Linked DNA regions of Homo sapiens. The protein of the gene in region 4 purifies or fractionates together with the protein of the main gene of each other region. This does not show direct contact. Each region holds a gene or a part of one and is shown on either strand. Other genes may lie near its edges. The genes, in order: PLD1, JPH1, WWP1, TNFRSF19, PLD2, CST4 and KLK10.

The links.
Region 1: the proteins of TNFRSF19 (region 4) and PLD1 purify together in Homo sapiens (affinity purification with mass spectrometry; 2 studies listed by BioGRID and IntAct, with this or other methods). This does not show direct contact.
Region 2: the proteins of TNFRSF19 (region 4) and JPH1 purify together in Homo sapiens (affinity purification with mass spectrometry; 2 studies listed by BioGRID and IntAct, with this or other methods). This does not show direct contact.
Region 3: the proteins of TNFRSF19 (region 4) and WWP1 purify together in Homo sapiens (affinity purification with mass spectrometry; 2 studies listed by BioGRID and IntAct, with this or other methods). This does not show direct contact.
Region 5: the proteins of TNFRSF19 (region 4) and PLD2 purify together in Homo sapiens (affinity purification with mass spectrometry; 2 studies listed by BioGRID and IntAct, with this or other methods). This does not show direct contact.
Region 6: the proteins of TNFRSF19 (region 4) and CST4 purify together in Homo sapiens (affinity purification with mass spectrometry; 2 studies listed by BioGRID and IntAct, with this or other methods). This does not show direct contact.
Region 7: the proteins of TNFRSF19 (region 4) and KLK10 purify together in Homo sapiens (affinity purification with mass spectrometry; 2 studies listed by BioGRID and IntAct, with this or other methods). This does not show direct contact.

What each region holds. Positions count from the first base shown.
Region 1 is NC_000003.12:171,674,484-171,677,983, forward strand, and holds part of PLD1 (phospholipase D1), read right to left. Parts: intron 3,212-3,500; coding exon 3,083-3,211; intron 2,351-3,082; coding exon 2,232-2,350; intron 131-2,231; coding exon 17-130; intron 1-16. UniProt on the Homo sapiens protein: Function as phospholipase selective for phosphatidylcholine. Implicated as a critical step in numerous cellular pathways, including signal transduction, membrane trafficking, and the regulation of mitosis.
Region 2 is NC_000008.11:74,241,541-74,245,040, reverse strand, and holds part of JPH1 (junctophilin-1), read left to right. Parts: coding exon 1-512; intron 513-3,500. UniProt on the Homo sapiens protein: Junctophilins contribute to the formation of junctional membrane complexes (JMCs) which link the plasma membrane with the endoplasmic or sarcoplasmic reticulum in excitable cells.
Region 3 is NC_000008.11:86,429,547-86,433,046, forward strand, and holds part of WWP1 (NEDD4-like E3 ubiquitin-protein ligase WWP1), read left to right. Parts: intron 1-1,150; coding exon 1,151-1,205; intron 1,206-1,859; coding exon 1,860-1,944; intron 1,945-2,068; coding exon 2,069-2,197; intron 2,198-3,500. UniProt on the Homo sapiens protein: E3 ubiquitin-protein ligase which accepts ubiquitin from an E2 ubiquitin-conjugating enzyme in the form of a thioester and then directly transfers the ubiquitin to targeted substrates.
Region 4 is NC_000013.11:23,657,412-23,660,911, reverse strand, and holds part of TNFRSF19 (tumor necrosis factor receptor superfamily member 19 isoform 2 precursor), read right to left. Parts: intron 1,863-3,500; coding exon 1,698-1,862; intron 548-1,697; coding exon 422-547; intron 1-421. UniProt on the Homo sapiens protein: Can mediate activation of JNK and NF-kappa-B. May promote caspase-independent cell death.
Region 5 is NC_000017.11:4,813,652-4,817,151, reverse strand, and holds part of PLD2 (phospholipase D2), read right to left. Parts: intron 2,735-3,500; coding exon 2,651-2,734; intron 2,520-2,650; coding exon 2,441-2,519; intron 1,677-2,440; coding exon 1,566-1,676; intron 1,389-1,565; coding exon 1,218-1,388; intron 611-1,217; coding exon of another isoform or gene 572-610; exon of another isoform or gene 533-571; coding exon 406-532; intron 216-405; coding exon 97-215; intron 77-96; coding exon of another isoform or gene 7-76; coding exon 1-6.
Region 6 is NC_000020.11:23,686,239-23,690,473, forward strand, and holds the start of CST4 (cystatin-S precursor), read right to left. Parts: upstream 2,801-4,235; 5' UTR 2,732-2,800; coding exon 2,504-2,731; intron 964-2,503; coding exon 850-963; intron 1-849. UniProt on the Homo sapiens protein: This protein strongly inhibits papain and ficin, partially inhibits stem bromelain and bovine cathepsin C, but does not inhibit porcine cathepsin B or clostripain. Papain is inhibited non-competitively.
Region 7 is NC_000019.10:51,012,239-51,014,474, forward strand, and holds the end of KLK10 (kallikrein-10 preproprotein), read right to left. Parts: 3' UTR 501-2,236; downstream 1-500. UniProt on the Homo sapiens protein: Has a tumor-suppressor role for NES1 in breast and prostate cancer.

The DNA.
Region 1 (3,500 bases), on a different chromosome or scaffold from region 4:
GCCAGAACTTACTTACCTGTACGTTAGCATGGACAGACCCAGGCACTTGATATCTCAACTCATGGGCTGTTGTTTGAGACTTTGGAAGCAGAAAAGGATAAGAAAGGGACCGATATTTTGATTTCATAATCTAAAATAAAGAAAAAGGATAAAATATTCAAATGAGAAAAAAGATTCATTCTCCCTACTTTGTGATTATAAAAGAAATTCATGCCCAGGTGCAGTGGCTCACGCCTGTAATCCCAGCACTTTGGGAGGCCAAGAAGCGGGGATCACTTGAGGTCAGGAGTTCGAGATCAGCCTGGCCAACACGGTGAAACCCCCATCTCTACTAAAAATACAAAAATTAGCCAAGCATGGTGGCGGGCGCCTGTAATCCCAGCTACTCGGGAGGCTGAGGCAGGAGAATCACTTGAACCTCGGAGGCAGAGGTTGCAGTGAGTCGAGATTTCATCATTGCACTACAGCCTGGGTGACAAGAGTGAATCTCCATCTCAAAAAAAAAAAAAAAAAAAAGAAAAAGAAAAGAAAAGAAATTCAGGTTAATTTGAAAAAGAAAAAGAAAAATGTTAATGGTGGACATTTCTAAGTGAAGGGCTACAGATTATTTGTGTTTGTTTTCTACTTCTCACAGTCCTGTTTTTACCTTTTGTAGGGGAAATATTGTTTTATATTTGTAAAGACAGGTTAAATATAATCTGTAGTTACAGAACTTTATAATTGCAAAAATGAGACTATTGTTTTATAAACTAATTTTTTACTGATTATGTTCTAGATATCTTGTCACAGCAATATAGTGGGATATCATTATTTTTAATAACTTCATAGTAAAATGGTATAAAAGAATCATTTGTTTAATAAATTCCTATTAGTAAGGATTTCTGTTATTTCTAATTTTATTTGAATTATTAGAAGCCATATCAAAATAAATTACCTTATTGGATTATGGCTTTAGTTTGAATACCCGGAAATAGTTTTTCTGGATCAAAGATTGCATACTTTAAAAAAGACTTATTGGTGTTGTACAAATTTATCCTCCCTGGGGTAGCATGTATGAGCACACCACAAAAACCACCCCAAACCTAACTACAGGTATCAGCAGAGACTTTTATCTTTGCCAGTATAGCAGGTTAAAAGTAACACCCCATTTGTTTATTCATCCATCTCCCCTAAATTTTTGTTAAAAAATTTCAATTAGAATGTCCACTAAATTTTTATAATCATTATGTGAATGAAAAACAAAGTTAGACTCTAAGTGGTTGATAAAACTAAATTCTTTTTCCAAACGACCAAGGGGAATCATGACTCATTATCCCTTCAAGTAAATAAAGTGAAACTTTAATAACACCTGAATATGTACTTTTTTTTTTTTTTTTTGAGACAGAGTCTCGCTCTGTTGCCTAGGCTGGAGTACAATGGAGTCCTCTCAGCTCACTGCAAACTCCGCCTCCTGGATTCAAGTGATTTTCCTGCCTCAGCCTCCAGAGCAGTTGAGATTACAGGCACCCACCACCATGCCCAGCTAATTTTTGTATTTTAGTAGAGACAGGTTTTCACCATGTTGGTCAGGCTGGTCTCGAACTCCTGACCTCAGGTGATCCACCAGCCTAGGCCTCCCAAAGTGCCAGGATTACAGTCGTGGGCCACCGTGCCTGGCCTGAATGATACGTACTTAACTTATGAATGTTAGGTTTGAATGTTATGTCAAGTTCTTACAAGTAATGAGGACACAATCTGGATAAAAGGAAAATGGCCCCACCTTCTTAATACTTCTTGGTTTGCTCAGAACCAGCTCTCAGAATCCTGTACCAATATAAACCCAGTGCAATTCCAGTCCCATCCAACTGGATGGGACTTTAAAGCTCAAGCCCTCTCATCTAAACCAGGCTCCTATCCCCCTATAACAGCCCTGCAAATGACTACCGAGCCCAGGCTACTAAATGCTTAGTCAACACTGTGTCCAAGATGTTAACAAGGTTAAAATCAGGACCCACACAGCAGCACCTGTCCCTAGGCACTCTGAATTGTCTATGGTGTGGACATTCGGGAATGTTTCCCTTTTTTTTTGCCCAGATGCCCAGGCACCCGGACATCAATGCAGCCAACAGCAGAGCAGTGACACAGTTGTGGCCACAACAGTCTCTTCTTGCTACCAGCCTCCTCTAAACCTCTTCTCTAGTTAGGCCTGCCTCTCTTCATGTGGATAAATCATGATAGCAACATCCAAGTACTTTTGTGAAGTTCCAGCGCTGGATGAAGTGACGTGCCACATCACGAGCCGCCTTCCCGTGGACTGCAGAGGCAATGTCATGCCAGGGCATCCGGGGCGTGGAGTACCTGTCAATGAAATCTGCCCGGGTGCACCAGGCAAGGATCAGTCATTAACTTCAGTGTTGGGGCAAAGTCTCTCTGACTCCAACTATGAAACTAAAAGGAAACGTGGGTTAGTGCCCACTAGGTATATATTTCTTGGCTTGCATAGAACAACATTTTTATAATCAAGGGAAACAGATTTCACATTCAGGGACATAGTCTCCCAGGCACTTCCCCACATATGTTTCCGTTTCACTTAGGATTAGATAATCACTAGACATGGCAAGATGTGAGTTGGTACAAATTATCTAAGGCTGTGTATTTGATATTATATTTTTTATTTTTTATCCTGTTGAAACAATGGCAGGCAATGCCATCTCTATCTCCTCTTAAACATATAAACCCAGTGATAACCTGAAAATATGCCATTCTAACGCTGGAAATGCAGGAAATAAGCAGAATAGAAGATGATCAAAGGGAGCCTACCATTTCCTGAAAAATTACTGATTATTGCCCCCAAAATATGCCTATAAAAATCTGGATTTTTCAGACAGTTCAGCTCTATTTCATGTTCTTTTCTTATTATAACTGAAAAAAAAGTCCTTAAGCACATGCTAATGACTAAATCTAGTCTCCAAAGTTTTAAAAAATTTTCAAAAATCAACGGAAGCAAAACAAAAGGCATTTAGATCATGCACATGTATACTTGCTGAGATGTTCAAAGGTAAAAGACAAAATATAACCAGCACCCCACCATTATGATACTCACCAGCAAAAGGTTTATCAAGTTGAACCCAGTCTTTGAAGACGAAATTGCAGTAGTCCTTTCCATGCCAGAATCTGGTTTCCCCATGCAGCTCTCCCACACCTGTCTGTAAACTACGGATGGACCCGGTATCTGTGAATGCAGCAAGACCCCCTCAGAGACTGTGGTTCAGGTGAGTCCCAGAAAGGGAGGCTCAACTCTCATTTATTAAACACCTAAAAGCTTCTTAATTTCTTAAGACACAACTAGGGTGGCATCTGTCCATTCTATTACAGGCTGTGGGCTAACAAGGTTTTACAGTCCTTACAAGTTTACTTTTAGTGGGCAGTTAGGGCTACAACAAGATTCATCATTAAACAATGAAATTTGACCTTCTCAGGCAGTTGAGTAACTTATTTCCACCACCTACCAGATCACTGGA
Region 2 (3,500 bases), on a different chromosome or scaffold from region 4:
CTCCTGAGGCAAGTCCCAAACACAGCCACTCTCCTGCTTCCTCCCCAAAGCCCCTGAAGAAGCAAAACCCCAGCTCAGGGGCGAGACTCAACCAAGACAAAAGGAGTGTGGCTGATGAGCAGGTGACGGCCATTGTCAATAAGCCCTTGATGTCAAAGGCTCCCACGAAGGAGGCAGGAGCGGTTGTGCCCCAGTCCAAGTACTCTGGCCGCCACCACATCCCCAACCCCAGTAACGGGGAGCTGCATTCTCAGTATCACGGCTACTACGTGAAGCTGAACGCCCCCCAGCACCCTCCAGTAGACGTGGAGGACGGCGATGGATCCAGCCAGTCTTCCTCAGCACTGGTGCACAAGCCATCCGCTAACAAGTGGAGTCCCTCCAAATCTGTGACAAAACCAGTTGCCAAAGAAAGCAAAGCTGAGCCAAAAGCTAAGAAGTCTGAACTTGCTATACCAAAGAATCCAGCAAGCAACGATTCATGCCCTGCTTTGGAAAAAGAAGCCAATTCAGTAAGTACTGCAAGTAGCGTTTTCTCTTTCTTTCTTCCCTTTGTTTCTTTCAGCGAGCTGTGTGGGGTGACTGTGCATCTTGATCACAGCCAGGCTAACCAAGGTTCTAGAAGCACAGGGTTGTTTAGAGCAGCACATAACACATTGGTAGCTTGAGACAGCAAAGAGCTCTCTGGGCAGAAATTCCCCCCACCACCCCTATGTTCACCCAGCCCCACTTTAGATGTAATTCAGGTAGGTAAGACCTGACCAGCTTAGCACAGCATCTTAGCACATTTTAGCAAGGCTTTAACAGCGTGTCTTGGTGAGCTTCCTGGTAGCTTGCTCTCTGATTGCTGGAAAGGAATCATGACCCCTGCCAAGGGCCAGCCGCTCTCAGAGCTCTAGGAAAAGGGCACCAACAAGTTCTTAGTTCTCCTGTTTTCACCACAGCGGTCAGCATCTTTACACAAAAGAACGTCTCCTCTAGCCGTTGTGAATTCTTCTCATACATACGTAGTTTGGACTTTAATTAGCCAGGCTTTGCAGCTAGAACATTTTTCTTTCCCAAAAGAGAACTGAAAATTTCCAACAGTTCAAGAGAATTTCTTTGGTCTTCTGTCTTTTCAAAGTGTGAGAACTCTTACAATTTCAGTTTTCTGGTAGATGCAGGTTATTAGTATCAATTAGTCTTAAGCATTTAAGATATTTATTTATTATTCAGCCAGAAAAGCTCTGTGTTATTGAAAAATCTTTATACCTTCTTTAAAAGGAGATTTTTTGAATAATGTATGGAATTAGTGTTTTATCAAATGCTATAGTATTTATAAAATCTGAAGCTAATTATTGATTAAAAAATGACCTCTTGACCTGATCACATCCCTTTAGAACAGAGGTGTTGAAAGTTACACACCTAGTATTCACTAGAAATTATAGAGACATATTTGCATAATGGTGTGGATTAATATCTTGGCCAACAAGAATATAGTACAGCCATCAGTTTCTTATTTTTGTCTGTTTGATTTACTCACAGGATTAAACAATTAAAATTCCTCTGTTAACTTATGCTTAAAATTTCTTGTGTGTTTATTTTGCTAATATCTATAAAACACTGGTTCTCTTCTTTTTTCAAATTTTCAACTTTTTAATTAGCTAAACATAAATTATTCAGATTAACTGGACCAACTTCCTAGGAGTCCACCTGCATGGAGAAAAATTGTTTTCAAAACAGACTAACTTTAAGATTCTGACTCTTCAGTAAGCATTCATTTTAAAGATTTTAAACCTTAATATGACAGTATCTTGACATTACAACTATAATAATCACTATTGAATTTGTTAAATGTAATAGCTTACTTCTCATTTGACTTTCAGCATGTTTATCCCCAGGTTAATAAGGCCTCGCATATATCAGTGTTAGTTTGCCTGATTTACACAGGGAAAAATTCAAACAATGCAAGGCCATACCTTTTATACCTTTGGGTACCCATTTGTGGGCTTTAGTTGACTTCTAGACTTCTACAAGGGGAAGTGTATGCCCCAGCGTCCTATACATTAGGCTGTGATAGGGGGAAAAAAAAGTTGAATTACCCAGCTCTTAGCTGAAAGAGTCTCTCTGTAAAACAGTAGTATACGTATGTTTGGTAAATTCACAGCCTCCTCATTTAGAAAAAACATCTGTTTTACTTATTTGCGGAATTCTCAGATTCTTGGAGTTAGACAAGCATCCTCCATCTCAGTAGTTGGTCCTTAGGGTACCCCTCTACACCCCAAGGGGGAAGGGAAGCCCCAGCAGCTCCGCAGCTACCCTGAGCTTTAGACTGCCTCTGCAAAATTCAAGACCGACTTGACACCTTCACGCGAAGATTCTAATAATTAACATTGTCTTCCCAATAGTAACAGAACGCTGCCGTCCCCACTCCTCAGAGTTAGGAAGTGGCACAGTCATCATAAATGTTGTCAGTGGATGACCTTTAAGATAATGGAGTACTACATAGTTTTGAGAGAAAGACACTGTATAAGTTAGACATTCGTGAATAATTTTAAAATTCACAGAATTGAACTCTGTTGCTGAACTTCCTCGGTTCACATCCCAGCTCTGTTGCTTACCAGCTGTGTGACCCTGGACAGTTTCCTAACTGCTCTGTGCCTTGGTTTCCTCATCTGTACCTATCACAGGGTTGTTGTGAAGATTAAATGAGTCAATACTTTAAAAGTTCTTAGCATAGTGCCTAGCGCAGAATAAATGCTCAAAAAACCTTGGCTATTATGATGTTTGTTTCAACACAATGCTAACTGAAGCATAAGCAGTTCAGAAATATTCAAGTAGATCTGATCCATCCTCAGGATCACCCTGGCTATTGATCTCCTAGAAATACAGAAAATCTCCTGGGATGGAGACTAACACAGGAAATTAGTTAACTCGAGTATGAGAGGTAGGAGAAGGGAGGCTGTGGCATTGATTACTTTCTTGAGGAAGATTTTCCTCAAGAAACTTTTGTGACCCCTGTGGGCAATGGTTGCGTATGGACTCATGTCCTAGGGGCACGCATTCAATGTGATCCCGAAATTTTTGTAGAGTTTTGCAACATGACAACTCTGGTAGGGTCAGAAGAGGCATCTTTAGCGTCTTACCATCAAGTAGACAAGAGGGGAATTTTCCAATTAGGTATCTCAGCCCATTCTGAAAAATGACTACACTTTTTTCTCAGCCATTCCTGTGATTTGCATCCAAGTTTGTTTTGAGGTTCATCTAATCTTTCTTTTGAATTTGTGTAAAATTTAAAGCGTCCCCATCAAATTGGGTTTGAACCTCACCCCCGAAAGAGGTAAATATATATAATTAAACTTTGCTGTTAATACTTAATTAAACTTTGTTCTTCTCTTGTGTTTCTAGCTAGAGAAGCTTTAGATTTCACATAAACCATAGTAACTCTTCTAGCAGAAAATTCCTTACAGTTTTAAATATGAGTGACAATCTCTTAAAGGAAAAAAAGATAATTTTTTGAG
Region 3 (3,500 bases), on a different chromosome or scaffold from region 4:
GTTATAAGAATGGAGGCATACATAAAAATGTGTTTTTATGTATGTATGAAAATATAAAAGATACTAATTAAAAGTTTATTTCTATAAATGATACTGGAGTTGAGTGTTAGTTTTATTAGTGGGCATTTGTTTTAAAGAAAATTGTGATAACTGTTCTATTTTTAAACAAATAATATTGCCTCATTTAAACATCATAATTTCCTATATGTTCTTCTCCCATTTCATCTTCCCTCTATAGATTAGTATGGAAGGACTGGGAGAGTAAAGTATTGATGCCAGTGTATTATTTTTAAATCATTTTCGAAAAACTAATAATTAATTTGATAGTTGATAGTCTCCTCTTCGTGACATTTTATGAACTTAGTGTCTTGGCTGGGAGCGGTGGCTTACACCTGTAATCCCAGCACTGTGGGAGGCTGAGGCGGGTGGATCGCTTGAGCCTAGGAGTTCGAGACCAGCCTCAGAAACATGGCAAAACCTTGTCTCTACAAAAAATACAAATATTAGCCGGGTGTGGTGGCGCATATCTGTAGTCCTAGCTACTCGGTTGTTGCTGAGGTGGGAGGATTGCTTGAGCCCGGGAAGCAGAGGCTGCTGTGAGCTGAGATCACGCCACTGCACCCCAGTCTGGGTAATAGAGCAGGAAGATCCTGTCTCAAAAAACAAAGAACTTTGTGTCTTGAAATTGCTATATTTCCTTATAATGTGGACCTATCTATCTGTCTATATAATAATATAGATATATTTTTGAGACAGCTTCTCGCTCTGTTGTGCAGGCTGGAGTGCAGTAGTAGTGTGATCACAGTTCACTGTAGCCTCCACCTCCTGGGCTCAAGTGATCCTCCCACTTCAGCCTTCCAAGTAGCTGGGACTTTAGGCATGTGCCAACACATCTGGCTAATTAAAAAAAAATTTTTTTTTATAGAGACAGGATCTTCCAGGCTGGTCTTGAACTCCTGGGCTTAAGTAATCCTCCCACCTTGCCCTCCCAAGGTGCTGAGATTACAGGCATGAGCCACTGCGCCCAACCCCTTATCATATTTTTAGAAAATTATTATAAAATGTGATTCTGCCACATGCTTGGCTTATTTCTACTTTCATATTAAAACACTGTTATTTTATTTCTCTCCCTAATCTTTTCTCCAATCAGGCTTCAATGTTAGCTGCAGAAAATGACCCTTATGGACCTTTGCCACCAGGCTGGGGTAAGCTGTTTTTGCTAATGATCTATAAGGGAGATATATATCTCTCCATATATATATATATATATATATATATATATATATGTTCCTTATTTTATATATATATATCTCCCTTATATATGTCCCTTAACATATATATATCCCTTATAATATATAATATATTTAATATGGATTATATATTCTATATATTATATATTCTGTAGAATGTTATATATTCTGTATACTATATAGAATATATAATCCATATTAAATATATTATATATTATAAGGGATATATATGTATATTATATATGTATATATTATAAGGGATATATATATGTATATTATAAGGGATATATATATGTATTATATATATAATATACAGAATATATAGAATAGATTATATATTAAAGAATTATATATTATAGAATATATATTATATTCTACATAATTATCTATAATATAATATATATTATATTCTCTATAATATAATATATGTTATATTCTCTATAATATATATTATATTCTATATAATATATTCTATAATATATAAGGGATACATATATCCCTGATATGTTTTTATATATATAATATATATTATATATAATTATATGTGTTCCTTATTTTATATATAGATCCTAAATAGTTATTAAATATTATACTCACTTTATATTTCAGAAAAAAGAGTGGATTCAACAGACAGGGTTTACTTTGTGAATCATAACACAAAAACAACCCAGTGGGAAGATCCAAGAACTCAAGGGTATGTATATACAGCAGCCTTAAGTCGTCTTGCATATATCAGTAGGTAGAACCAACCAACCTTGAATGAGATATTTTTAGTACCTAGAAAAGGTTCATCTTGTGATTTTAACTTTATCTTTTAGCTTACAGAATGAAGAACCCCTGCCAGAAGGCTGGGAAATTAGATATACTCGTGAAGGTGTAAGGTACTTTGTTGATCATAACACAAGAACAACAACATTCAAAGATCCTCGCAATGGGAAGTCATCTGTGTGAGTGAAAACCTGAAGTTCTCCTTTAAATATTGCTTAGTGAGCACATGAGATTTAGTCTCTAATTTATCCTCAAGTTTAGCAAAACATTTTACTTTTTGGTTCAAGAAAACCTACACAAGTGAAACCTTAGTATAGCTGTCTTTGCTCTCATTTGACAATGGATTTGCAGCATGTAAACTATTTATGTAGTGATTACTGTGTGCCGAGGATTGTTCTAAGTACTTCATAGGTATTAACTCATTTTATCTTCCAATAACCCCTTGAGGTAGATACTATTATTTTTCCCTTTACCAAGTGAGGAGAGGTATAGGGAGCATAACTAACTGTGCAAAGTTATAAGGCAAGTAATGGAGCTGGTTTCTAACGATGACAGTCAGTCTCTGTCTAGACTCTGTGCTCTTAACTGCCACATCACACTGCTGCAATGAGATGGTCAGTGAAATGATTTTTCCAGATTTAAAGATACCTTAATTAAGCGGTTGACAGATCTCTCCTTCATTCTTACTCTAAGGTGTCATGTCTTTGCATAACTAAGAAAATAGAAGCAATCCTAAAAGGTCTTTTGCAAAGTTGTACCACCATATCTGTCCGTCTCCTACCATCTCTCCTCCCTCCTGTTCCTATAGATGAACTGTCATTGTTATTATCAAAGTCTCGTCCCTCTGCTGGTACATTCGATTCCTACCCCCACTTTTCTACTTAATTGCTCCAACAGTTATCACCTTTGTGTTGCATTATCAGGTTTTATTTCTCTACAAAATTATTCTTATCAGCTGTTATTTCTCCTAGATATAAAAAAAAAGCAAAAAAAAAAAGAAATTACAACTCTTCCCTTTACCAATGTGTTCAATCGCAGTTCATTTTTTTGTTTTTTTTTTGAGACGGACTTTCGCTCCTGTTGCCCAGGCTGGAGTGCAATGATGCGATGTCAGCTCACTGCAACCTCCACCTCCTGGGTTCAAGCGATTCTCCTGCCTCAGCCCCCTGAGTAGCTGGGATTACAGGCACCCGCCACCACACCCAGCTAATTTTTGTATTTTCAGTAGAGATGGGGTTTCGCCATGTTGGCCAGGCTGGTCTCGGACTCCTGACCTCAGGCGATCCACCTGCTTTGGCCTCCCAAAGTGCTGGGATTACAGGCGTGAGCCATCACACCCAGCCCACAGTTCATTTTTATTGCTCCCCTTTACAGGAAAGCTACTTGCATGGTTGTCTCTGTATTGCTGTTCATAGTTTCTCCTTTAAACCAACTCCAAGGAAGTTCCCCTGACACTGAATTTGCAAGGGCACCAATGATCTT
Region 4 (3,500 bases):
CTCTCTCTTCTTTAAGAAATTCTAAAAATAGATATATTTTTATAATAGACATATTTTTAAAATAGGCATATTAGTGTTTGGTTTGAATCAACCAGACAGCAAAGGATATAAAGTCCTACTCTACCAAAGGTTACCGTGATTTTAAATAAACTGACTCAAAACAAGAAAGACAAACATGACCCAAAAGTTGCTGAAAAATTCTAGAATTTTAACGAGATGCTTATTTCCTTTTTAATGCTTAAGAGACTCGAAACACCCAAACCAACAGGAGATGGTGGAGAATAATTTAACAAGATTAGTTTTAACCAGAAGACTCAACACAGCCACCTCGCTGTGAGGTGAATAAACCAGGACCAATTCTTGCTGCTTCAGCTTCTGTGTACCTCCAGTCCTCCTAACGGCACTTCCCTGCTGAACTTACCGCAGGTCTGCACTGAGTCACGGCGGCACTGGCAGCAGGCTCTGTGGGCATATTCGTGGAGCTGAGGTCTGTCAAAACACGACAGCTCAGAGCCGTTGTACTGAATGTCCTGTGACCGCAGAGACCCTAAATGAGGGGTGAGAACTCTGTCAGGGAACACAGTCTCCTCTCTAGTGGACCTGTGCCATTCTAGCTTTTGTATTTTTAAAGAACAAATCAGCTATCCTTCCAATGTTTGATGACTTCTTCTTACATGGAAGCACAAACATGAAATAATTTGTTAAGAAAGTTCAAAATGTAGGGTACTAATGTTGCCATTACTGAGAATGATTTTTATTTTTGCCTAGTGGCGCAGGGACATCACAGCCTTGTAAGTCTCCTTACAAAGCTGTGCAACCTCAGTGAATTCTACAGATGACCCTTAAGCAACACGGGTTTGAACTGCGCAGGTCACTTATACACAGATTTTCTTCAGCCTCTGCCACGCTGAGACACCAAGGCCAACCCTCCTCCTCCTCCTCCTCAGCCCACTCAACATGAAGATGATGAGGATGAAGGCCTTTACAATGATCCGCTTCCACTTAATGAAGAGTAAATCTATTTTGTCTCCCTTATGATTCTCTTAGTAACATTTTCTTTTCTCTAGCTTACTTTAATGTAAGAATACAGGGCATAATACATATAATAGGCCGGTGCAGTGGCTCACATCTGTCATCTCAGCACTTTGGGAGGCCGAGGCAGGCGGATCACGAGGTCAGGAGTTCGAGACCAGCCTGGCCAACATGGTGAAACCCCGTTTCTACTAAAAATACAAAAATTATCCAGGCGTGGTGGCGGGCGCCTGTAGTCCCAGCTACTCCGGAGGCTGAGGCAGGAGAATCACTTGAATCCGGGAGGCAGAGGTTGCCATGAGCTGAAGTCACGCCACTGCCCTCCAGCCTGGGTGACAGAGCCAGACTCTGTCTCCAAAAAAACAAAAAAACAAAGAAACATATAATAAACAAGATGTATTAACCAACTGTTTATCAGTAAGGCTTCCCGTCAACAATAGGCTATTAGTAGTTAAGTTTTTGGGGAGTCAACACTGACGTGTGGATTCTTAACTGCTCTCCTAGCCCTCTGCTGTTCAGGGATCACCTGTGTTTCTTGTGCCCTGCGTTCTTTCACAACTCACTGGTGCTTGTCTCAGCCAAGTCTCTTGTGGAACACTTGCACGACAATAGTAATAAATGCCCTTCCCCTAAATGCTAAGAAATGTAATGAGCTCAAAACTTACAGCTGGGTTTCTTCTCCATAAACTGTCTCTTACAATAGATGACACAGAGGATGAGCAGGGCCAGCAGGACGGTGGCCAGAGCGCTGCAGATAACGGCAGCCAGCGCCGTGTCCCGTGGGCTGGAGGCCGTGGACGCGATCTTCACGAGGTTGACCTTGCTGGCACCTGAAACCACAGGAATGGGGTCAGCATGCTCTGAACAACTGCAGATGCAGTGTTTATGGCGAAGCTGGCAGGCACCCTTACCAGTGGCCTTCCCATGCTGTGAGAAAACTGGCATGAGATATTTAAAGATGGCTCAAGCACCCCCTCCACCCAGAAGATGTCTTTAATGGGACACCTTTACCCGGCACCCCACAATGTGCAGGGTGTCCCTCTCCTCTGTTCCCAGAGCGCTACGGACACACAATCCTCAACACATTGTGTTACTAGAATCTGCCTTCAGCTCCACCAGAGCAGAATTCTTTGTGAGCTGGGGGTCTGTCATCTTTACCTCTGGTTGCCCAGTACTTGGCATGTGGCAGGGAACTAATGTTTTGTACTTAATTGGAATTACACCATATTTTTAAGCAGACTGAATGCATGTATGCTTTTTGGGGCAACTTTAGGGGAAAACAAGGAGTTGGATCATCCAGAACCTTACAGTAGACCCCAGTTTTTGAGACAGTAAACATCTCTGAATGCCTTAGCTGTTAAACTACTGGAAAACATCTAAGTTTTGGAGAAAAGACTAATACTGTTATTACACTATGGAAAGGCCGGCATAGTCATGTGCTAAGAAAGTCAAGAAATAGATCTTATTTTAGAGGGCAGTACTGCTTTGTGGTTCAGGGCAGATTCTGAACCCCATGGCCTGGGTCAACCTCTACCTGTGTGACCTTGAGACACTGACTGGAATTTCAAGTTGCCATCTGTTCAAATGGAGGTAATAATAGTGACTGGCTCATGTGTTATGTAAAGTGTGTGGGACTGGCTGTGCTGTAGAATCATTAGCCACTGTAATGATGATGATAGTAATTACCATTTTAAAACTATCCTGAGGGTACCAGGATAAACAAACTCATTTAAATCAGAGATCTATATCTAGTGCAGTTAAACAGCATATCCTACTTAACTAACCCCAAAATAATGAGAGAAATGGATTTAAAAGGGGCATGAATCTACACAGAGGGGCAGTTACATTTTCTCTTTCCCAAGCAGATGCCCTGAGTGAGCTGAGGGGCCCTCACTCTGCTTCCCCGGCAGGTGCTGCTCACCACAGGAGCCTCCCCTCGACTGAAGATTACTCCAGGTAGAGGTATAATGTGTGCTTCACATGTCATTTCAGGTTGTCTAGGAACCACATTTAAAACGTAAAAGAGAGGCAAGGTGCGGTGGCTCATGCCTGTAATCCCAGCACTTTGGGAGGCTGAATTGAGAGGATCCCTTGAGCCTATGAAGCTGCAGTGAGCTGTGATCGCACCACTGCGCTCCAGCCTGGACGACAGAGCGAGACTCTGTCTCAAGAAAAAAAGAAGAAGAAGAAGAAGAAGAAACAGGTAAAATTAACTTTAGTCTATTTTACTTAGCCAATATATCTTAAATATTGCATTTCAATATGTATTCAATATAAAAATTATTTATGACATATTTTGCGTTCTCTATTTTGTATTAAAATTTTAAAATCCGGTGTGGTTTTAAAGACACAGCTCATCTGAATTCAGACTAGCCACACTTCAAATGCTCAGTAGCCACATGTGGCTAATGGCTATCATAATGGACACTGCAACTCTAGAGATTGAAGGTCTGTGTCTATATTTGTAC
Region 5 (3,500 bases), on a different chromosome or scaffold from region 4:
GGTGGTCTGACGTGGAGGGATGGCAGAGTCAGCAGGAGGTGCCAATCTGCCCTGGCTCCCTCCCTACCTCCAGCCCCTATCGGAGGGAATGAACACCTTGGTGAAGTTCCAGCGCTGGATGAAGTGCCGGGCAAGGTCCCGGGCCGGTAGGCCATGGACGACCACCCCAACGTCCCGCCATGGCATCCGAGGGGTCGTCTCCCTGTCAATGAAATCTGGGGGGTCCCAGGAGAGTCAGGGGAGATGTCAGGGCTGGACTCCTTGGGACACTTGGGGCAGGGAGAAAGAGCCTGCCAGAGGGAGGGCTGTACCACCGTTGACCCCTCTCATCCCACTCTCAGTACCAGCCCCAGCTTCTGACCCTGCTCTCAGCTCTCTGGGGCTTTGGCGGGTGGGAGGCTTCACCTTCGAAAGGCCGGTCCAGCTGCACCCAGTCCTTGGTGATAAGATTGCTGTAGTCCTTGCCCAGCCAGAAGAATTGGTTGTGAGAGAGGTCTGGGGTGGCTGGTGAGTCTGGGCGCGGGGTGGGAGGCTGTAGGGGGAACACACCCAAGCCAGGGGCAAGGGGAAGTCATGGGGCTGTACAGAGCCAGGGCCAAAGAGAGGAGCACTGAAAGAGTGAGAGAGACCGAGAGGAAGAATGAAACAGAGGGTCTGATTCCCCAGCCCTCCCCTCCAGTTGCCTTTGACACTTTTAGAGGAATGGGGTGATGGTCAGTGAAAATGGGGAAAGGACTGGGTGGGTGACAGCACTTTTTTTTTTTTTTTTGAGACAGAGTCTCGCTCTGTTGCCCAGGGTGGAGTACAATGGCACAATCTCGGCTCACTGCAACCTCCGCCTCCTGGGTTCAAGTGATTCTCCTGCCTCAGCCTCCCGAGTAGCTTCAATGACAGGCAACTGCCACCATGCCCAGCTAATTTTTTGCATTTTTAGTAGAGACAGGGTTTCACCATGTCGGTCAGGCTGGTCTCGAACTCCAGACCTCAGGTGATCCACCCGCCTTGGCCTCCCAAAGTGCTGGGATTACAGGCATAAGCCATGGCTCCCGGCCAGTTACAGCACTTTCAAAGTGGGTTCTTGGAGTCCCAGAAAGTCTGAGGAACCCTGAGGTTGGCAGGGCCTGGAATGACTGAGGGGGTAAGGCTGGAGCTGGGAAATGGTGTTGATTGAGCTTATCTGAGTTTGGGGGTGCTCAGGAAGGCCTCAGGGGGATTACCTGGGAGGCAGCTGATTCAGAGGAGTCTCCAAGGTCAGTCAGTCGGTAGTGCAGGTCATCCCAGCGGCCATAGGCAAGGTCCAGTCCCCCCAGGAATGCTACCACTTGGTCCACCACCAGGAGCTTCTCATGATGGGCCCACAACGTCACTTGGTCTGGGTGACGCATCACCTGGAGCAGGCATGGAGGGTTCATGAGGGTGGGTTTAGGTGAAGGAAAACAGGAGGTACTGGGAGGGAGAGAGGAAAGATGGAAAGATGAGACCATCAGGGAGCGGGAGCGCTGGGGGCTGGGACAGTGTGGGGAGAAGGGCTGTCATGTGGGAGGGTCTCTGAGGCCGAGAGTCACCTTTATGTTGGGGTGCAGCAGCATCAGCGCCCTCTTGCTATAGCCACTGTTGATGCCCAAGGCCAATTCCACTTCTTTAAACAGCAGAATAGACACACGGACACCCTCCTCCTGGTGGTGAGTTGGGGAATCAGATCCTAGTGCCTCTCCCAGAGTAGCCCCTTTCCACACTCCCAAACCTTTTCCACGTGTGTCCCTCCAGCTTGTCTGGAGATCCTAGAGGCTCTGCCACATATGCCCTGCTTTGCTGCTTGCCACAGACTTAGACTAAATGTCATCTGTGTGCTCACCCACTCACCCATCCACACATCTATCCACCCACCCTTCATCATCCATCCATCCATCTTCCCAAGCATTTACTCATCCCTTTATGTACCGTCTATCATTCATCCATCTACCTGCCTACCCTCCTAGCCCTCCACCTTTCCAACTCATATCCTTCCATCCATCACCCTTTCTGTCCTCTATCCATCCACCTGCCCAGCCACCCTGCATCATCCATGCATCCTTCTTCCTGTCCATCAACACCACACATGCCCCCTCCATGGCAGGTACTGTGCCTTGTAGTGGAACAGTGATATTAACTAGTCCAGTGAGAGAGATAGACATGTATACCCCCAGATAACACAATAAAGTATTATGTATACTGGGAGGGAAGTCTCTGCCAGGTGGAGGGAGCATGAAGAGGAAGTTGTCAGTTCTCCTTAGGGCAGAGGGAGAGGGCGGAGGTGATGTCTGACAGGTGCTGGGCCAGGATGGACACTTTTCCCTCCCCTGAAGCCTCAGACTGCCTAATTCTCCCACACTGCAGCCCTGCTAATCAACCTCCACCCACAGGCAACCCCCTCCCCCTGCGGCCTGACCACTCTCCTCACCGCCTTCCTCTTGAGCATAATGTCCAGTCTCCAGTCATCTGAATGGGCCGGACGCTTCAGGTAAACCTCAGGACTCAACCTGGGATTCAGGGCAGTGGATTAGGGGCAAACGAAGCCCCAGACCACCAGCTGCACCCCCCTTCTCCTCCTAATGCTGATCTGCCCCAGGCTCTATCCTGCCCCATGTTGTTGGGGCCTTTTCCCACTCACCACCAGTCTGTGATGAAAATCTCCTCTTGAGCTCGAAGGATGGCATCTGCCACAGCAGCAAAGTAACCTGCCCCATTCACAAACCTGGGGGGAGGCCAAGCCAAGGAGGTCAGGGGAGTCAGAAGCCAGAAAGCTCTGGAGAGTGAAGACCGGAGGACAGTCGTGGGTCAGAGGTGACAGCAAGGTCAAAGATCAGAAATGATCAGAGAACACAAGTGGTATCAGACACATCAAAATAGTGTTTGCCCATATGCGCTAAATACAAATAAAAATTACAAAAAGACACAATAACCTAATCAACTAAAGAACAGGAGGATTAATACATCATACATAAAGAACACCAATAAATCGACAAGAAAAAGTCACATGAGCCAACTGAAAAATGAGCAAAGAGTAAGAACTGACAGTTCACAGAGAAATTAAAATGGCCAATCGTGGCAAATGTTCAGTTTCACTAGTAAACAACGAAATTAAAATGAAATTACATTTAAAAAATCCATTAGATTGGTAATAATTCAAATCACTGGTAACATTCAATATCAATATTCAATATGCTGGGGAAGTGGGTATTCTCATAGACTATGGGAATATAACTTTTAGGAGACAATTTGGCAGTATCAAAAAATATATATATAGCTTTTTGGAGATGGTGTCCCGCTCTGTCACCCAGGCTGGAGTGCAATGGCATGATCTTGGCTCACTGCAACCTCCGCCTCTTGGGTTCAAGCAATTTTCCTGTCTCAGCCTCCCAAGTAACTGAAATTACAGGCGCCCGCCACCACGCCTGGCTAATTTTTGTATTTTTAGTAGAGACGGGTTTTTGCCATGTTGGCCAGGTTGGTCTTGAACT
Region 6 (4,235 bases), on a different chromosome or scaffold from region 4:
AGCCTGGGCAAGGCCTCGGGAGCCCCAAGGGTGCAGGACATGGGGAGGTGGCTCAGTTCCCCCAGCTCCTTCCACCTCCAGCACCCAGGCCAGCACTAAGAGGGGCCAGAGGGAAGAACCCAGGGCAGGGCAACTCCCCCTCAAAGAGCTGGGGCATGGGTCAAGGGCAACAAGGGGAGTGCCGCTCTCCCCTGAGTGGAGACCTCACAAGAACCAGCAGGTTCTTGGAGAGGCTGGTGTTGGGTGAGCCGGGCAGGTCCAGGGCTTCCCAGCTAACAGGCCTCTAGGTCCCACTAATCTGATTGTGGCTTTGGCTGCATGCAGGTGCCTGAGGCTGGGATTAGACAGATCCCCTTCTCCCTGCCCAGCACCCAGCCCCGCAGGTGATTCTTCCTGTCCAACAGGCAACACCCCAAAGCAGGCAGTTGACCTTCTAGTAACCATTCCCAAGCTAAAGCCTTCCTAGCAAATCAAACACATCACCCCCTCCCTCACCACCCCATCTGCACACACATAGGCAACTACGTAAACTCACTTGGACCCCTCATCCCCATGGATCTATGTACAAACCCCCATACTTCCGCCACACACCCACACACAGGCACACATGCTTCCATACACCTACCCGCACACACTGGCACATGTGTGTACACACGTGCACCTTTCCACATGCACACCTACATGCACACCCCCCCATAAGTACATGAACACGTACACATCCATGCATACACGGCTCCCCACATACCCACCTGCACACACACACCGTCCAAACATGGGTAGGACAGAGGCTGACACATACGCACCCCTCTGCAGTGCATGACTGGCCCGGGACCCGCATCAGGAACGTACCTTCTGCAGTTCTGGCTGTTCATGGAAGGCACAGGTGTCCAAGTTGGGCTGGGACTTGGTACATATGGTGCGGCCCACCTCTACGTCGAAGAAGTAATTCACCCCCCCAAAGGTCTGCACACAGGAGAAAACAGGAAGCACGGACAGCGCCCCCATCAGTTCATGCACTCACAGGCACTTCACTGTGGCTGAGTCACTGGACTTGCTTGGGGGCTTCGTGAGCTGCCCACATGTCAACACAAGGCACACAAGCCCCCTCTTCCTGTCAGCTGGCAGGGTGCTGAGCCTCATGCCCGCTCTTAAACATCGTTTTCTCTGTGCTGGGTAAGAGGATTCATTGAATTCTGCTACCTGTGGCTCAGGGGTGAGGGAACACTGACTCTTTTCTAGGAAGGCTGTCTGATGACAAAATTTCAGCTAACTCACGAAAATCTTATTCCCTCCATTTAACCTAGATTTATTACTTCACTTAGAGTAGGAAATGAGATGCTTCACACACACAGATATTTTGGGTCAATGGGGCCGCCCAGATGCCACCATTTCAAGTGTGAGGTTCAAGATACGTTTCTCAAGTCAGCAGCACACCTGAGTGTCTTACAATTGCAGATTATAATTGAACCCTTTCCCTGCACAGGGCCTCTCCCAGACACTACGTGGCAGAGCTGTGGAGAAACCTGGGATGAGGGACTCTTTGGAACCAGGAGGAACTGCTGAGATCCCTCGAGTATCAGTTTACCCATGTATAAAATAGGCTTCCAGGTCTGATGGTCTGCAATGCCCTGTGCTTCACTCCAAGTTACTGTCATGCTTAAGAGGGAGATGCAGGCCAGCGGGGACCATGGCACCAGGGAGTGCACCTCCTGTGCAGGGTGAGGGCTCCAGCTGACAGCTGTAGGAGGAGAAACGGGACTGGTCTGGATTCCTTTGAATTTCTAGAAGGTGGAGGAGCTCTAAAGGCTGTGTCACTATTTGCTGCTCTGCCATGGGATGCAGGTCAAGCTGGGCCCAGTTGCCCTGCTGAAGCTCACTCTGGACCTAACCCCTCCTCTGCTCTGCTGGGTGACTGCTGTCCTCATCTGGCTGAGGTCTAACTCTGCATCAGCTCGTAGAGGCAGGGCCAGGCGTGCTCCACCCCAGCAGGGACTCAGCCATCCTGGCCTGCAGGGGTGGGTCAGCCTGCCTGAGGGTGAAGGCCACTAGCCCTAAGGGGCTGTGCCCAAGGGCATGACTTGGGGAAGGAAGAAGGGCTCTGCAGAACAGGGAGCCAGGTTCCCATGTGGCCCCTGAGGAGAGGACTCAGGGAGGAGAATGAGCCTCACCGCCTGGATCTCATCCTGAGCAGCATCAAGCCCACCCAGAGTCAGCACAGTCTCCATCCACACCTGCTGGACGCTGGGAAATGCCACGGTCATGGTACAGACACAGCAGCTGCTGCAGGTTAAAGGAAGCTGCAGCACTTCCTTTAACTGTCTGCAGTGCATGGACCGGGAGCATGCTTAGGCATGAAGGGCATCAGCGGAGAGTCAGAGAAAGCTGAATGAATCTGAGCATTAGATCATGAATGTGTCAGTGTTGATTTGCTTGGAATGCTCTTGGGGGTCCGGCAACAAACCAGGCTAGGGCTCAGGACCCCTCGGGTGGAGGCAGCACCCACCTGCTCCCTGGCTCGCAGCACCTGCAGCGGGCGTCTGTAGTACTCATCTTCGGTGGCCTTGTTGTACTCGCTGATGGCGAAGTGAAGGGCACGCTGTACCCACTCATCATTGAGGTCTGCATCATAGATGCCACCTGGGATTATCCTATTCTCCTCCTTGGAGCTCGAGGCCAGAGCCCCAGCCAGGGTAGCCATCAGGAGTAGCAGGGTACACAGAGGCCGGGCCATGGTCTCCTCAGAGGCAGAGCACAAAGCTGGAGCTGCAGGAGAGGAGGGTGAGAGCCCGAGGCAGGGAGCCCAGACCAGCAGGCAGGTGTGCATTTATCCTGCTTTGGCAGCCCAGCCCCACCCACCTCCATGCCCTGCCCCTGACTCCTCCTCCTCTTTCTGCCCATCCCCTCTTTCTCCATCTCTCTTTTCACTCCCCCACCACTACAAGCTCCCTCCCTGCCTAAGTTCCCCCTGCCCCTCCCAGGCCTCCTCCTCCATCTCCCCCTCCTCCCCACTCCAGTCCTCACTGCAGCCTCCCTGAGCCATGCCTCTCTTCCCCAGTGCTCCCAAGCTTGAGTCACCCAGGTCTCCACAGAGGTGACACTGGTCCTTTGACTGTGAAAGCAATGTGACTTCCTGTTTGCTCAGAAAGGGGAAAAATACAGGGCTTGGCCTCCCGGGGTCTTCAGATATCAGAGGCTTCCAGGAGCACTTGGTCACGGTCTCTGAATCTCTGGAACAGAGAGGTTATTTCAGAAGGTTCCAGAAGACCCTGTCCACACCCTAATATGGAGAATTTCTTTGCCAAATTTAAGGGAATTAACCTTTTTGGAAAAGGTCACTGGCTTCTGTTTTCATAACTCATTATTCAATAAACAAACCTATCACCAGTTACTGCCCATGCCAGGAGGTCTAGGGCTTGAAGACGGAACCTGGATGATGAGCCATAGAGGTGACATTGCAGAGCTGCTGCCCACAGAGATGTGACATGAACCCACAAGCATTTGAAAATTTCTAGTAGATGCATTTTAAAAGATGAGAATAAATGGGTGAAAGTAATGTTTAAAATATTTATTTAACCTAATATAGCCACAATATTATTTCAGCTAACGGGAACAATTATTAATGAGATCGTTTATGTGTGTTTTTTTTTTTTGGTTTTGTAAATCTTTGAAATTCCCTGTGTATTTTTTACACTTAGCCCAGGAATCATTTTGGACTGGCCCCATTTCAAGTGTCCTGTGGCACATGTGGCTGGTGGCTGTGGAACTGCACAGTAAATTCCTACACAGTGTGTGTAGAGGATGGTAGGTTACGATCAACAATTAGGATCAGGGAGTTATACTCACTCTGTTGGAAGTGAAATAGAACAGGGGCTAGAGAGAGACCACTGGACCCTGGTCAGGGTGGTCTCTATGAGACTGGAGAGGTTGAGCAGCCCCAGGCAGCGGGGAACAGCCAGTGCAAAGGCCCTGAGGTGGGGTTGGGACATGCCTGCTCCAGGAAGAGGAAGCTCCTGGAGGGGATGTGAGCAAGGGAGGAAACCACCTGGAGTCTCACGGTAACTGTGGGTGAGGACCGGTGGAAGGTGCACGGAGACCCCTGTGAGGCAGTGGGGGTGTCAGGAGAGGGAGCAGCAGCCACGGGATGAATGTGGGAACCCACAGGCCTCTCTTGCTTCTCTCCTAGGCAGCCATGCTTCAGGCTCCTTTCCTCTGTGCACTCCTTGGAAGACTCACGT
Region 7 (2,236 bases), on a different chromosome or scaffold from region 4:
AGCTCAAGCATTCCACCCATCTCAGCCTCCTAAAGTTCTGGGATTATAGGAGTGAGCCACTGCGCCCAGCCTATCTCATTTAACTCTCACGGGAGTCTAATTAAGCAGGTGTCTCCATTTCACAGAGTGAAAACTGAGGAAGAGACAGCATTCAAGTAATTTGCTCAAAGTCATACAGCAAAGTGATTGAAATGCATTTCCTTCTCTACCTGGTGAACTCCTACTTATCCTTTAAACTCCTGCACAAATGTCCCCTCATTGAGAAGCCTTTCCTGACTCCTTCAGGCACAGCCTGTGGACTTGGTGTGGTGCACCCCATACCCCCTTCTGTTACAGCACTGATCTATTTGTGTTATGTGTTCACACAGCAACGGGGGTGACTTCTGTGTGCCGGGCACAATACAGGAGCTTAGAAAATCACAGTGAACAAATATCTGAATCACTGCCCTCACGGAATTTGTGGGGAAGGGTGACATAGACCATTATCAAGTAAACACAAATGAGATAATTTCAGGTATAATAGGTGCTATTAAAAAAAAAAACAAACAAACAAAAAACAGAGCATCGGGACTGGATGACCAAAAGTGGACTCCTATAGCCTGGGCAATTCAGGAAGGCCTCCCGGAGGAGGTGACTTTTGAGTGGAGACCTGAATGACAGGAATGTAAGACTGGCCTGTCTCCCTGACCTAACTAGCAGCTCCTTGAGGGTAGTGCCTGGTCTGATTCATCTTTGAGGCCTGGCATAAGACGTGGCTCGATAAACATTGTGGAGTGACTAAAGGGACGGGTGAGTTGCCTTTAATAATGAATCGAGTTTTCAAGTTTCCACCGACCTCGCTTCTGGTCTTTGGATGACAAACCCAGCTGATACGCCTGTCTGACATTTCCTGCGTGTGCTAATGGGGGCAGAATGGGAAAGAGGCCACGGAAGGGAGCTGTGTGCTCAGACCTTGTACATCAACCTCCTGTGGGCTCTGCAGGGTGGGGGACCTTGTGATCACCCCTACGTATGTCCCCAGCACCCAGCACTGGGCCTGGCACATAATAGATGCTCCATAAATTGGTAACTGAAAGGACAAACAAACAAACAAAAACCCCGTGCTTAATGGGAAATTTCTGTTGTGCCTATATTCAGCTAGCTTATGTTACTGCTTCAAAGTTCAGGATAAGCTGAGACACTCAAACTTCTTCTTTTTTTGAGATGGAGTTTTGCTCTTTTGTCCAGGCTGGATGGAGTGCAATGGTGCAATCTTGGCTCACTGCAACCTCTGCCCCCCGGGTTCAAGTGATTCTTCTGCCTCAGCCTCCCAAGTAGATGGGATTATAGGTGCCTGCCACCATGCCTGGCTAGTTTTTGTATTTTCAGTAGAGATGGGATTTCACCATTTTGGCCAGACTGGTCTCGAACACCTGACCTCAGATGATCTGCTTTCCTCGGCCTCCCAAAGTGCTAGGATTACAGGCGTGAGCCACCACACCCAGCGGACACTGAAGCTTCTATTAGCCTTACCTGGATTCTGTGTATTAACTCCCCTTCCCTCCCCCAATTTCAGGGAGAATCAAACAATTCCTCCTCCCAAGTTTTCAGGACGAAAATCTCACAGCCAATTAATAACAGACAAACCAAAGATTTTCCCCTAAATGTCAGAGGGAGGTTTCTTGGCACAAGCTGGGCAGTTGAGGTGGCAAGGGTTTCCCAATCTTCACTACCCCCTCGGCCCTCTGGTCTTAGAGGCTGGGATAGAAGCAAGGTGAGGTCCCTTGAGTTCAGTGGCCTCATGAAGGCAGAGAAGGTGCTAATGACTCAGGGCCAGCCTAGCTCGGAGGAACTGGTGTTGGGTGGAACCAGAAGTGGGAAACAGTGGGAGATGAGAAGGAAGTGGTTAAAAGGTGTTTCCTGGGACTTGGAACTAGGGTGAGGAAAATGATTCTTCCATCATCCCTAAGGGTTGGGGATGGAAGGTTGGGACTGGGGGCTACCCTGTGCACTTCTTCCCTGGACACACGCTTTCACCGGGACGTGGTCAGATCACGACAACAGGTAACCTTTAGTCAGAACTCACCACCCACTGTGTTAAGCCTTACATGACAATCACCATGAAGATTTACATACACATGTTATATCATAGTCTCCTCACAACATGTCTAAGAGGTAGGCACGTCATTGTTCCCATTTTGCAGATGAGGAAACTGAGGTTCAGAGAGGGCACTTGGCTTGCCCAAAGTCACACAGC